Linked DNA regions of Homo sapiens: all the other regions are reported to be linked to region 4. Evidence: microRNA targets listed by miRTarBase, many of them from high-throughput screens and not tested one by one. Region 4 holds a microRNA gene; each other region holds the end of a gene's coding sequence. Distances are from middle to middle.
The links. Region 4 holds the annotated microRNA hsa-miR-4793-3p (UCUGCACUGUGAGUUGGCUGGCU, at 2,097-2,119, shown strand). A microRNA usually pairs through its seed, bases 2 to 8, with sites in the 3' UTR of a target mRNA and lowers its output. Matches are read on the target gene's strand: a 7mer-m8 pairs with bases 2 to 8, a 7mer-A1 pairs with bases 2 to 7 and ends in A, and an 8mer does both.

Region 1 (3,085 bases), 90 Mb from region 4:
GCGGCTGCTCTGAGGCAGGCAGCGCTTCGCTAGAACCACTCAGCTCGTCCCGCGCCGCCGCCGGCTGCCTGAACCAGGTTCCGCTGTCCCCTTTCCTAGCGGGACCCCGAAACACCCGGCGGCTTCCCGCTCCTGAGCGGGAGAGAATAGAGCTTGCTGCAACCCTCTGCTTGGAGGGATGGCCTCTGCGGTGCTTGGCTAGCAAAGGGAAGCTTCACTGTGTCTATTAGTACATCCCCATACACTCCACGCCTCAACAACTGTCAGCACTCACTCCCTCCCGGCCCCTCACAGGGCCCTTTGCACCCACACCTCAGGGACTCGGTGTCCCTCCACTCAGGTCACGTTACTCCATCCACTTCTCTCTCCTTCTCCCTCTGTCAACTCCAAATCCCCTCTAGTTCTCCCTCCCCTCCTACTTCTCTCACACTCACCAGCTACACGTACTAATTCAGATTTTGCACATGTTGGTGGAAAACATGTCAAGCCAATGTGCAGACCCTAAGGCTTTTCACACGCTGCTCACTTTCGCATCTCACGGTGCAGAAGGACCAATGGGCTCCAGGTTTACAAGCCTGACTCCGAGAAGCCTGTTGATTCTCTGATGTCCTTGGCCTGTGATTCGGGTGACTGGGCTGCCACCTGGGTGTTTTCATGATGGGACTGCCGCACAGACCACAGAGAAGCTCAGGTACTGAGCACGTTCCAGATACACTTTAACATGCACAGGCCACTCACACAGGCTTTATCTCTGTCTCGAAACTCTGCTGAGTTTGCTGCTCAGACCAACAAGGTGCAGCAGCAGACACCCACATAGCACCAGGTCTGAAGCCAGTGGGTATTAGTCTGCCTGGTTGGGATTAGCAAAGTCAGTTACTCACATATGTGCTTGGGAGAGAATAGGGGAGTGGAGAGAGAGAGAGAGATATTGAGGAAGAGGAAAGAGAAGCGACCTCCTACTCTGGGAAGAACTCACACATGAGAGCTGTTTCCTGTTGTTAAGTGTCTCACTGAGCTCCCCTCTTTCTCCCCCAGGAAGGGCTTGAGAGGCAGTAGACCAGAGCTCTGGGCTCCTCTTTACCTTGCTGATGTTGGGGTATGAGTCCTCCAACACCATTTTGTCCCAAGGAGTATGTGCCCCATCGTCAATCAGGCAGAATGCAGGGCAGTTGTCGGCCTTTTTCATGGTGGAGGCCAACTGGGAAAAAGGCAGAAGGGTCTGGGTCCTGGGCCAAGTGAGGCCCTCTTCCCTCCAAAGACCCGTGGGATGCTCTCAGAGGCGGATTCTAGGGTGGTGGGAGCTGCTGACAAGTTTCCTCTGATATCCCTCATGACATCTATGGCCCAAAGCCATTTTGTTCAGCTCTGAACAGTGAGTGCCTTGCCAGTAGGCCTCAGGCTTGCTGGGGAACATGATGTGTTCTTAAAAGTTGCCTTGTTGCCTTTCTCCACACCCAGACTGTAAGCGCTGATGGGCAGAGACTCTGCCCTCCACTTCTCACTCAGTGCTCCCCACCAGGATGGGCTTAATGCCTTTTAATAGAATTAGAAAATGGTTCTGCTGGACAGAATTGGGAAATGCCACTTTCCTTATAATGAAGTTATAATGAAGTTAGAATTTCCAAGAAAGGGACTGTAGCTGAGGAAAAGCGGTTTGATCATTGACAGCCAGCTCAGGATCTGAGAGTTCTTTGCCATTTGGGGTTATTATAGCTGCATGGCCATGGTGCTGAACCTTAGGCAAGGGCAAGGACACCTCCCTAGTTCCCAGTCATGGTGAGGACCTGTCTGAAACATTCAAACTAGACTTTACTGGAAACAGAGAAGTCTCTGCATTCAGGGCAGCTGGCTTGCAAGGTAAGGCCTGCAGTCTCCACCCGCACGCTAACCCATGAGGGGATGCCAGAGAGAGCCCTTCCCCCTTGGTCCTCATTCCTGGCTCAATTTTCTCCCACAAAGCGGGCACTTTCTAAAGATGATAGGCAACTGCCATGGAGGAAGGCAGTTTTAGATGCCTAGCTGGCACAAAGTCCAGAGGAAGGGAGGGAGAAGGGCTGAGTTTTGTATTACTGTTCTACCTTTGGAGATTTTCCTCATGCCAAGATAGGGTGTGTGTGTGTGTGTGTGTGTATGTGTGTGTGTATGTGTGCACTATAACTTTATGAAACACTTTTTTTTTTTTTGAGACAGGGTCTCACTCTGTTGCCCAAGCTGGAGTGCAGTGGTGCAATCTTGGCTTACCGCAGTCTCCACCTCCCAGGCTCAAGTGATCCTCCCATCTCAGCCTCAGCCTCCCAAGTAGCTGGGACTATGGGTGTGAGCCAACACACTCAGCTAATTTTTTTTTTTTTTTTTTGGTATTTTTGGTAGAGACAGGGTTTTACCATGTGGGCCCAACTGGTCTTGAGCTCCTGAGCTCAGGGTGATTTGCCTGCTTCAACTTCCCAAAGTGTTGGGATTACAGGTGTGAGCCACCATGCCCAGTCAGTTTTTTATTTTTTATTTAAACAGTTTTGGGGGAACAGGTGGTTTTTGCTTACATGGATAAGTTCTTTAATGGTAATTTCTGAGATTTTGGTGCACTTGTCACCCGAGCATTGTACACGGTACCCAGTGTGTAATCTTTTATCCCTCATCCCCCTCCTACGCTTCCCCCCCCGAGTCCCCATTATATAATTCTTTTTTTCTTCTTTTTGAGACAGAGTCTCACTCTGTTGCCCAGGCTGGAGTGCAGTGGCATGAACTTGGCTTACTGCAGCCTCCTGAGTTCAAGTGATTCTCCTGCCTGAACCTCCTGTGTAGCTGGGACTACAGGCATGCACCACCATGCCCAGCTAATTTTTGTATTTTTTGTAGAGATGGGGTTTCACCATGTTGGCCAGGCTAGTCTTGAACTCCTAACCTCAAGTGATCTGCCTATTTTGGCCTCCCAAAGTGTTGGGATTACAGGCGTGCGCCACTGCGCCTGGTCCATTATGTCATTCTTATGCCTTTGCATCTTCATAGCTTAGCTCCCACTTATAAATGAAAACACAGGATATTTGGTTTTCCATACTTGAGTTACTTCACTTAGTATAATGGTCTC
Region 2 (3,089 bases), 110 Mb from region 4:
AAAGTTATAGGAAATAAACTTCACAAATATAAGGTACAAAATTGTTAAGCAATGATGTTGATACTAGTAGTTCTTTTACTCCAAGAATTTCTGAGCATTACTAATTCCAAATAGATAGTCATCAATTAAGAGGTCATCAAGAGTTAAACAGTATCCAAATCTTGTGTTGAGAGATATATTCTACAAAGGTGAGTTCTGTCATTTTAGGTCAAATTCAAGTTATTGGGAGACAGTAACATTTTTTCTTTTTCTTTTCTTATTTCAGTTATTTATCGAGAAAGCTGATGCTGAGGAAAAATGGTTCAAGAGATTAATTGCTCTCCGACAAGAAAGACTAATGGGCAGTCCTGTGGCCTAAGTAATATACATATAGTTGGATTGGATTGTCAGCAGTAACATTGGAAATTTAGGTTTTTAAATCCCAATATTAACTTTTTACTCTTAAAAAGAATTTTGCTGATTATATATAAAGGTAGTCTCATTTCATTTGTCTCTCATGTAGGCTTGAATATTTGTTAATTTGAATTAAATCAAACATTGTAAAAATTAAAACAAAATTTAAGATTGCATGAAAATGTTATACTGTTAATAAAGCTAAACATAAATAAGTCTGTTAAAATGAATGGTAGACACTAGTGTTTCTTAGTGCAATTCAAAAAATGTCAAGATGTCATTTAAAGACACAATTTTGATTAATTATGCATACATGAGAATTGAATTACATGCTATAAATATGAGATTTCATCTTCCGTATGGTATTCAACCATTTTTAAATATTTTATTTCACCATATTGCAAATTTTTAGGCACAATAAAAAGCACCCTAAACAATGTAAGCAGAATGTGCATGTTAAAGAACATATTTATGGAAAAAAAATTTTTGAAACTTAAATAAATTGGTGATTTTGCTTAGAGATCAGCTTCTACTAGATGCTCCTTTACAACATGTTAGCAGATCTCAGCTCATTGTTTTAGAAATCACATGTTCATGCTAGACCTAACCAGTTGGCCAAATACCTATGATGGAGAAATCATTTCTGAGAAAACTGATAAGAGCTCTCACTTCAGTCTTACTTACCCCACTGCTATTCCCTGTGGAGAAAGCCGGCTAATTGTTTTGATAAGGCTATCTGCCATTGTAGAATACCTTTCTCTAGTAGCTGAATGACAATCAACTATACGTTCCATACTAAACATGCCAGAGATAGGACTTTTAGGCCTTGCTTTACAAAACTGGTTTTTAACAGCTGACATGAATATTTCCCGTTTCTATTTTCTTTTTTTTTTTTTTTTTTTTTTTTTTGAGACGGAGTCTCGCTCTATCCCCCATGCTGGAGTGCAGTGGCGCGATCTCAGCTCACTGCAAGCTCCGCCTCCCAGGTTCACGCCATTTTCTTGCCTCAGCCTCCCGAGTAGCTGGGACTACAGGCACCCGCTAACATGCCCAGCTAATTTTTTGTGTTTTTAGTAGAGATGGGGTTTCACCATTTTAGCCAGGATGGTCTATTTTCTTCTGTTGTCCAGTCACTAATTTAGTCTCTGCGAAGACTGTAGCTCAGAACAAAAGATAAGCAAAAAAAGTCTTCAGGGTAGGACTGCCAACATATAGGACATTTTAATGCCATCTTCTTTATATTTCTGGGACATTAAAATTCAAATCTCTGTTGAAAATGAAAAATGTAAAACTTAGTTGCAAACAGTATAGAAAATAAGTGATGATGAAATATTTGTTTTCATACAAACATGCTTTCCCATTCTAAATAGATGCTAGTTTTCTTTTTTCCTTGGCTGTAAATAAAAGTGCCCCAAATGAACCGAGATTTGTGTGGTTTTTAACATAGATGTATACAATTTTAGTGACTTAAAAAGGGGTTACAGTTTATGAAATATTTTTATTTCATACTTTGTATAACTTATAAACTATAGAAGTACTATCACCCTATTGGAAAGTATATGTTAGTGGTCTGGGCAAGAATATGGGTTATCATTTGGGCCACTAATGATTCTCCAGAGGACCTGGGCTAGGCAGTTTTCTCAATATCCCTGATCTTCCTTATCTATAAAACAGTGAAAATCTGGTCTACTTCAATTATATTTAATACCAGTGTTCCTCTGTGGCAAGTACCCCAAATACAGAAGCTTGAACTGTGACAGAATTGTTTTTTGGGGTTTTTTTTGGGGGGGAGGGCGGTGGTTTGAGACAGAGTCTTACTCTGTCATCCAGGCTGGAGTGCATTGGTGCGATCTCGGCTCACTGCAAGCTCCGCCTCCCAGGTTCATGCCATTCTCCTGCCTCAGCCTCCTGAGTAGCTGGGACTACAGGCGCCTGCCACCATGCCCAGCTAATTTTTTGTGTGTGTATTTTTAGTAGAGACGGGGTTTCACCGTGTTAGCCCGGATGGTCTCGATCTCTTGACCTCATGATCCACCCACCTCGGCCTCCCAAAGTGCTGGGATTACAGGCATGAGCCACCATGCCTGGCCGAAAATCAAATTTTTTTAATGAACTAAACTATGGTCCCTACAGGAATTCGGTAACTACTTCCTTCCTCCCTAGTTTTCAACATGATTCATTTTTATATATTATTAACTTCGTTTACCTGCATTCCTATCAAAGACCACAATATTACCACACAAGCCAAATCAAATTTAATAAAAAGGACTGCATAGAACATGATCAAACATATTGCCTAATTCAAGCTAGCCTTCTTTAATATCCTTATATGGTGAGTCTATAAAACAGAATAATTCCTTTCATGTCACTTGATTAATGATAATAATTTGGACATACATGAGACCTTAAGTGTTTTACGAAACATTGATTTCTTACAAAATGATGGGTACTGATAATACAGGTTGAGTTTTCATTTCTGACAAGTAAGTATATTCTCAAGGAAAATGAAATAAGAGCATTTTTCCTGGCACTCTCTAGTTATGAGGAGTCAAAGAGCTAAAGATATGAGCACAGAATACTTTGAATCATTCACCTCCTTTGCTTCAGCATCCTAACATGTGAAATGAGGATACTAATTGCAGACCTGCCTACTTTGATTTTTCAGTAAAATGACATAAAAGAAAGCCCTTCATAGA
Region 3 (3,087 bases), not on the chromosome of region 4:
TTTTCTCTTTCTTCCTGCCAAACCTTGCAGGCAATACAGTACGGTACTGAGGATAACAGTACTGCAGTAGTAGTGCCTTTTGGTGCCTGGGGAAAATATAAGAACTCTGAAATCAACTTCTCATTCAGCAGAAGCTTTGCCTCCAGTGGACGATGGGCCTGATTACCAGCTGGGACTTAGAGTTTCTGTGCAACAGTTTTTCACTGAGCATGTCAAGAAACTGATAAGATCAAAAAGGTCTCCTAACTCACTAGATCAGCGCACAAGTCAGTGTAAACCACTTAGATAGTAGTTTTTTCATAAATGCTCATCATATTTATGTTCCGCTGTACATGTTCAGTATAAATATATGTGTAGTGAAGCTACTGTGAGTCTTTAAATGGAAAGAGCAAATGAGAAGTGGTTTGGATACACTTGATGAGAGATGAGAGTGTCACATTAATAATTTTTAAGACTCTTAGGCAGCTATGGGTTTCTTTTGATCATTTTTGTTCTTTATTCATTTGAACACGTTTTTGAAGTTCTTCAAAACTAGTCAGTTTGAATTTTGACAGCTATTCAATATGTGATCTCCAAGTTTAAAAAAATTTTTTTCCAGACTTCCCTAATCCTAAAATGCGAGTTTTTATTTTTAATAACTGTACCAAGGAATAAGTATGAAAACAGTTCTCTGTTACCATATTTTGTATTCTGGACCACTTACTGGTGAAAGCAACCATGCAAAAGAAATTAATTTGGCCAGGCACAGTGGCTCATGCCTGTAATCCCAGCACTTTGAGAGGCCAAGGTGGGTAGATCATCTGAGGTCAGGAATTCAAGACCAGCCTGGCCAACATGGTGAAACCCTGTCTCTAGTAAAAATCCAAAAAAAAAAAAAAAAAAAAAAAAAAAATTGGCTGGGCGTGGTGGCAGACACCTGTAATCCCAGCTACTCGGGAGGCTGAGGAAAGAGGAATCACTTGAACCCAGGAGATGGGGGTTGCAGTGAGCTGAGATCATGCCATTGCACTCCAGCCTGGGCAGCAAGAGCGAAAAACTCCATCTCAAAAAAAAAAAAAAAAAGAAAGAAAAGAAATTAATTCAGATGATGTGACATTACTAAATTGTATACATATTTATAAATGTGTATTTCAGCTGTCTCATCAGCCCTCCCCTCCATTTATTCCTATTTTTCTGTAGTTAAGAATACTGTAAAAATGTGACTATTCCTTAATATCAGAAAAGAATGCACAGGCTGAGTCTTCCGGTCAAAAGTTAAATACTGATGGAATCAAGTATTTTGTATGAAGTTCTCATTTGTTATCTCTAACGCTATTTTGTGTTTTGCATATAGTATTATAGTATGTGTATATCACTTTTTGTATAGAGTAAGCAATTGAATAATTTGTTAATAAAAATAATACCACATTGACTGATACTGCTATAGACATAGCTTGAGTTTTATGTCTCCTTTTTGCTCATTTTCTAAGACTTAGGAGAAAGAATAAATCTAAAATGACCATTAAAACATTCTCCATTTCAGCTTGCTGTGTAACTTAGGAAGTATAAAACTATACTTCTCTTTATCTGCATGTAAGTTTGCTGTTAAAATGTGAATTTCTAAATGTGTATTTGGAATTATTTCCGTAGTTTATTTCTGCAAACTATGTAAATTTGTTATATGTGTGAGTATGTGTACATATGTATATTTTAGAGTAATATAAAATTAAAGGGAACAATCTTGCATAGCTCTTTCACCAGTTTTAAATTATTGATACGTTATTTTTAAGGACTCTTGACAAACTAGGGGCAATTTTCTTATAGTGGAGACCCAGTGATTATCAGCAGATGAGGAAATAGGTTAAAAATTGCTATATGGCAATTTGTATATAAAGTAATAGGATGTGAGAAAAATACTGAATCTTAAGAATGACATGGAATTCTGTGGCAGAAACAAAAGAAAAAGTTGATGTAGTATATACCTTCAACTGTGTTTTGAGTTGACTTTTTTTTTTTTCTTTAAGCTTTGGGTAAAAATGTATGAGGAGGGAGAGGGCCCAATATAAATATTTACATCTTCTTACCTTTTTGGAAATGGAAGAAGATAAATCTTGAGTTTTTCTGCCTATATTAATCAGGAATTGCCCTTTGAAAAAAGTGCTAAATAAATATTTTGATTTTTTTTTTCAAGGGAAGTTAGGTGAAAGAAGGAAAAACATCACAGGAAAGACTGTTAACATTCTGTTTGTTGTCTGAGAGGTGAGGAACCAAAGGGAGGCAACTAAAGCGGGAAACCATCTTGCTTTTTCTAATCAGTTCTTGGAACAGAAATGTGGAAGCTACCTTTAGGAACATGGAGAATTTCCAAACCAACAGGCAAAGGAAAACTAACGCACAAAAATGACATTCTGAAGATGCAGGTTTCAGCCAGGCGCGGTGGCTCAAGCCTGTAATCCTAGCACTTTGGGAGGCCAAGGCAGGTGGATCACCTGAGGTCAAGAGTTAGAGACCAGCCTGGCCAACATGGTGAAACCTCATCTTGACCAAAAAATGCAAAAATTAGCCAGGCGTGGTGGTGGGTGCCTGTAATCCCAGCTACTGGGGAGGCTGAGGAAGGAGAATTGCTTGAACCTGGGAGGCGGAGGTTGCAGTGAGTCGAGATCGCGCCATTGCACTCCAGCCTGGACAGCAGAGCAAAAACTCCATCTCAGATAAATAAATAAACAAATATGCAGGTTTCATTTTTGTTTTGAATGCTTTACATTACTATTCCTATCTTTTACTTTAAAAACTAAGATGAGGAGTGATGTTGTCAAGTTCAAAGGCATGAGGGTGATTGATGGATTGAGGTAGATAGCCAAGTTTGTCTGTTTTTGTTTTTTATAGTTACAGAGTCTCACTTTGTTGTCCAGGCTGAAGTGCAGTGGTGCAATCATAGCTCACTGAGATTGCCAGGTTCGACAAAGAGGAATTTATAGGATGGGGATATAGGGTAGACTTGACTCTGCTTTATCCGGGAAAGCTTTTAAAACTCTGAGCCAGTTAACTTTGAGTAAGCATAAAACATACTGTATTGGTGTTTGTATTTTTCATGCCACAATATTAAAA
Region 4 (3,089 bases):
AGGCAAGCAGGCTGAGCATGGGGAGGTCAGCAGTGCGTAAGCCCAGATGGGTGTCTCCCCAGGCTTCCTCAGAACCCCGTCATGAACTCCCCGGTGGTCAGCGTGGCTGTGTTCCACGGACGCAACTTCCTAAGGGGAATCCTGGAGTCCCCCATCAGCCTAGAGTTTCGCCTGCTACAGACAGCGAATCGGAGCAAGGCGATCTGTGTGCAGTGGGACCCACCTGGCCTGTGAGGACCCCCATTCTGGAAACCCTTGGTCCCGTTAGCCCTTGGGAGGCCAACTAATAGTCCCAGCCTTCCCCTGGGGCCCCCACTAGTGCTGTTGTGCAACCCGGACCATGAGGAATGCTGTACCCCAACTCCAGGCACCCTCAGCCCTTCCCATGATCTCTCACAAACCCCTGCCTGACACTGGGTCACAGTTGTGTCTAACTGCCCTGTGGCTGCAGGGCGGAGCAGCATGGTGTGTGGACAGCACGGGACTGCGAGCTGGTGCACAGGAATGGGTCCCACGCACGGTGTCGCTGCAGCCGGACAGGGACCTTTGGGGTCCTCATGGATGCCTCTCCCCGTGAGGTGGGGCTGTGTTCAGTGTCCCAAGGAAGTGGGGGGTCAAAGGGACACGGGGATTCTGCCCAACAACCCATCAACCATCCCTGTCTCTGTAGAGGCTGGAGGGCGACCTGGAGCTGCTGGCTGTGTTCACCCACGTGGTCGTGGCTGTGTCTGTGGCTGCGCTGGTGCTGACTGCAGCCATCCTGCTGAGCCTGCGCAGCCTCAAGTCCAATGTGCGTGGGATCCATGCCAATGTGGCAGCCGCCCTGGGGGTGGCAGAGCTCCTCTTCCTGCTGGGGATTCACAGGACCCACAATCAGGTGCAGGATCAGGGCCAGGGAACTTGTGTCCTGATGACCCTACTGGCCCAGGAGGCCTGGGGCCAAAACTCAGGGTCAGAGGTCAGGGATGCTCAGGTTGGGGCCAGGGTTTTCAGCAGGATGCTGGGGTAAGATATTGTGGTTTAGGGGTGAGAGGTGGGAAGCAGATGCCTGGGGTAGGGGTCAGAGGTGGGTGAGGCAGGAGAGGTCCTGACACGCCCCCCTGCCCTCAGCTGGTGTGCACTGCAGTCGCCATCCTCCTGCACTACTTCTTCCTCAGCACCTTCGCGTGGCTCTTCGTGCAGGGGCTGCACCTCTACCGCATGCAGGTTGAGCCACGCAACGTGGACCGCGGCGCCATGCGCTTCTACCATGCCCTGGGCTGGGGCGTCCCTGCTGTGCTGCTGGGTGAGGGCTGTGACCCCCAACCTCCAACCATCACATGGCCTGACCCCTGACCCTGTCCCCACTCCTGCTCATGACCCCCAACCTCAAACCCCAAGCCATCTATTCATGGGGTTGCTGCTCTGCCCTCACCCATGCTTTCTCCCATACATGGGCTGGTCAGCAGCTCTGGAACACACACCCTCAGTCCTACCCTTTCTCTTCCCAAGGCCTTGCTGTGGGCCTGGACCCTGAGGGCTATGGGAACCCTGACTTCTGCTGGATCTCAGTCCACGAGCCCCTCATCTGGAGCTTTGCTGGCCCTGTTGTCCTGGTCATAGTGGTGAGTGCCCTGGACTTGGTGCCCCCTCTGTACTTCCCTCCCTCATTGGGGGAGGAGGTGCAGTGGACTCAGCTGAGGGCGGTCAGGTGGCATTCTGCAGGCTTCCTGGGCTCGGCCTTCATTTTTTCTGTCCTCTGGTCAGTAGCCACCCCCATTCAACTGGCATGGAGATGGGGGCGCGGGGTCAGAGATTCAGTTGCCTGTCCCTGCCTCTGTCTCTGCTTCTCTCTCTCAGTCCCTCTCTGGTTCCCAATTTCTTTTTCTGTGATGCTAAGCTCCTTTGGTGTGTGTGTATATGTGTGAATTTCTCACTGGTTCTGCCTCTCTCCGTGAATCTTAGTCTCTCTCTGTCTCTCATTGCCTCTCTCTCTCTCTCTCTCTCTGCCCTGCCCGGCCCCACATGTCTGGCCGTGGGTCCAGATGAACGGGACCATGTTTCTCCTCGCTGCCCGCACATCCTGCTCCACAGGGCAGAGGGAGGCCAAGAAGACCTCTGCACTGTGAGTTGGCTGGCTGGAGGAAGGGGGCTTCTCAGGATGGCAGGTCCCTCCTGGGTGGGGTCTGGGGCCCCCAGATCTTCCCTGGTGCAGGTTGGGCTCCAAGTTCTAGATGAAGGAATGAAGTCACACCTGCCCTGACCTGTGGTCCCTCTCTGGCGCCCTCGCTATACTGTAGCCCCACATGTGCTTCTGCCCTGCTGTCTCTCCTTGTCCTCTGGGTCCCCCCAGAGTCTCCCATGGCCTGGGTGGCTCACTTTGCCCCCTGCCCTGTGTGTTCCCACCTGTCTTCCGTGCCCTCCCTTGTGGCTCCCATACCCCTGTGTTTTCCCCACGTGTCCTCATGGCTCTTTGACTGCTCTCCTGTTTCTTTGTGGGACCTCCCATCTCCCCCAGTGTCCTCCAGAGACCTCCATGTTCCCGTGTGAGTTCCTTTTTTTCACGTTTCGTGTGTGGCCCCTGTGTGTCCTCCCGTGTTCCCTGCATGAGTCCTACATGAGCCTTGCATGTCCTCCTGTGTCTTCCCATGTCCCCACAGCAGGACCCTTCGCAGCTCCTTCCTGCTGCTTCTGCTGGTCAGTGCCTCCTGGCTCTTTGGGCTCCTGGCAGTCAACCACAGCATCCTAGCCTTCCACTACCTCCATGCTGGACTCTGCGGCCTCCAGGTGACTCTGGTGCCCCTCCCTTGCCCCAGAACCAGGTGGGCCTTCAGTAGGCTGGGGCCATCCCTAGGCAGACGTTGACCCTAGGCCTGGAGCTGACTCTTACTGGATAACTTTGCCAGGCTGGGTACTACCCCAGACCAGACACTGGCCCTAGCTGCTGCCCCCAGGCCTGGAGCTGACTCTAACTTAGGCACTGATCCCAGACTGAGTGCTGATCTTGGATCGACCTTCACCAACACCAAGGCTCCCGACCCCTTGCTGATCCACACCGACCTTACAGACTCCAGCCACTCCTGCTGCTCCATCCTCTCCCCTGCTGACCT

Region 1: miRTarBase lists FOXL2NB as a target of hsa-miR-4793-3p. Seed matches in the 3' UTR shown: 7mer-A1 at 493-499, 7mer-A1 at 541-547, 7mer-m8 at 2,216-2,222 and 7mer-m8 at 2,728-2,734.
Region 2: the mRNA of RSRC1 is a reported target of hsa-miR-4793-3p. Seed matches in the 3' UTR shown: 7mer-m8 at 1,335-1,341.
Region 3: miRTarBase lists PPM1K as a target of hsa-miR-4793-3p. Seed matches in the 3' UTR shown: 7mer-m8 at 2,897-2,903.

Annotation. Positions count from the first base shown.
Region 1 is chr3:138,950,343-138,953,427 of GRCh38, forward strand. It overlaps FOXL2NB (FOXL2 neighbor), which reads left to right. Exons shown (of 3, transcript NM_001040061.3): 3 at 1-3,085. The coding sequence ends at 230. Among named protein-coding and RNA genes, the nearest start is that of FOXL2NB, 4.7 kb to the left of the region's middle.
Region 2 is chr3:158,543,918-158,547,006 of GRCh38, forward strand. RSRC1 (arginine and serine rich coiled-coil 1) reads left to right here. Exons shown (of 10, transcript NM_001271838.2): 10 at 266-1,813. The coding sequence ends at 358. It overlaps MLF1-DT (MLF1 divergent transcript), which reads right to left. Exons shown (of 5, transcript NR_104147.1): 5 at 1,303-1,660. Among named protein-coding and RNA genes, the nearest start is that of UC.134, 19 kb to the left of the region's middle.
Region 3 is chr4:88,259,670-88,262,756 of GRCh38, reverse strand. It overlaps PPM1K (protein phosphatase, Mg2+/Mn2+ dependent 1K), which reads left to right. Exons shown (of 7, transcript NM_152542.5): 7 at 31-3,087. The coding sequence ends at 162. Among named protein-coding and RNA genes, the nearest start is that of PPM1K, 23 kb to the left of the region's middle.
Region 4 is chr3:48,643,231-48,646,319 of GRCh38, reverse strand. MIR4793 (microRNA 4793) reads left to right here and starts at 2,040; the gene lies at 2,040-2,126. It overlaps CELSR3 (cadherin EGF LAG seven-pass G-type receptor 3), which reads left to right. Exons shown (of 35, transcript NM_001407.3): 22 at 63-230; 23 at 452-578; 24 at 671-877; 25 at 1,111-1,285; 26 at 1,492-1,604; 27 at 2,025-2,104; 28 at 2,643-2,766.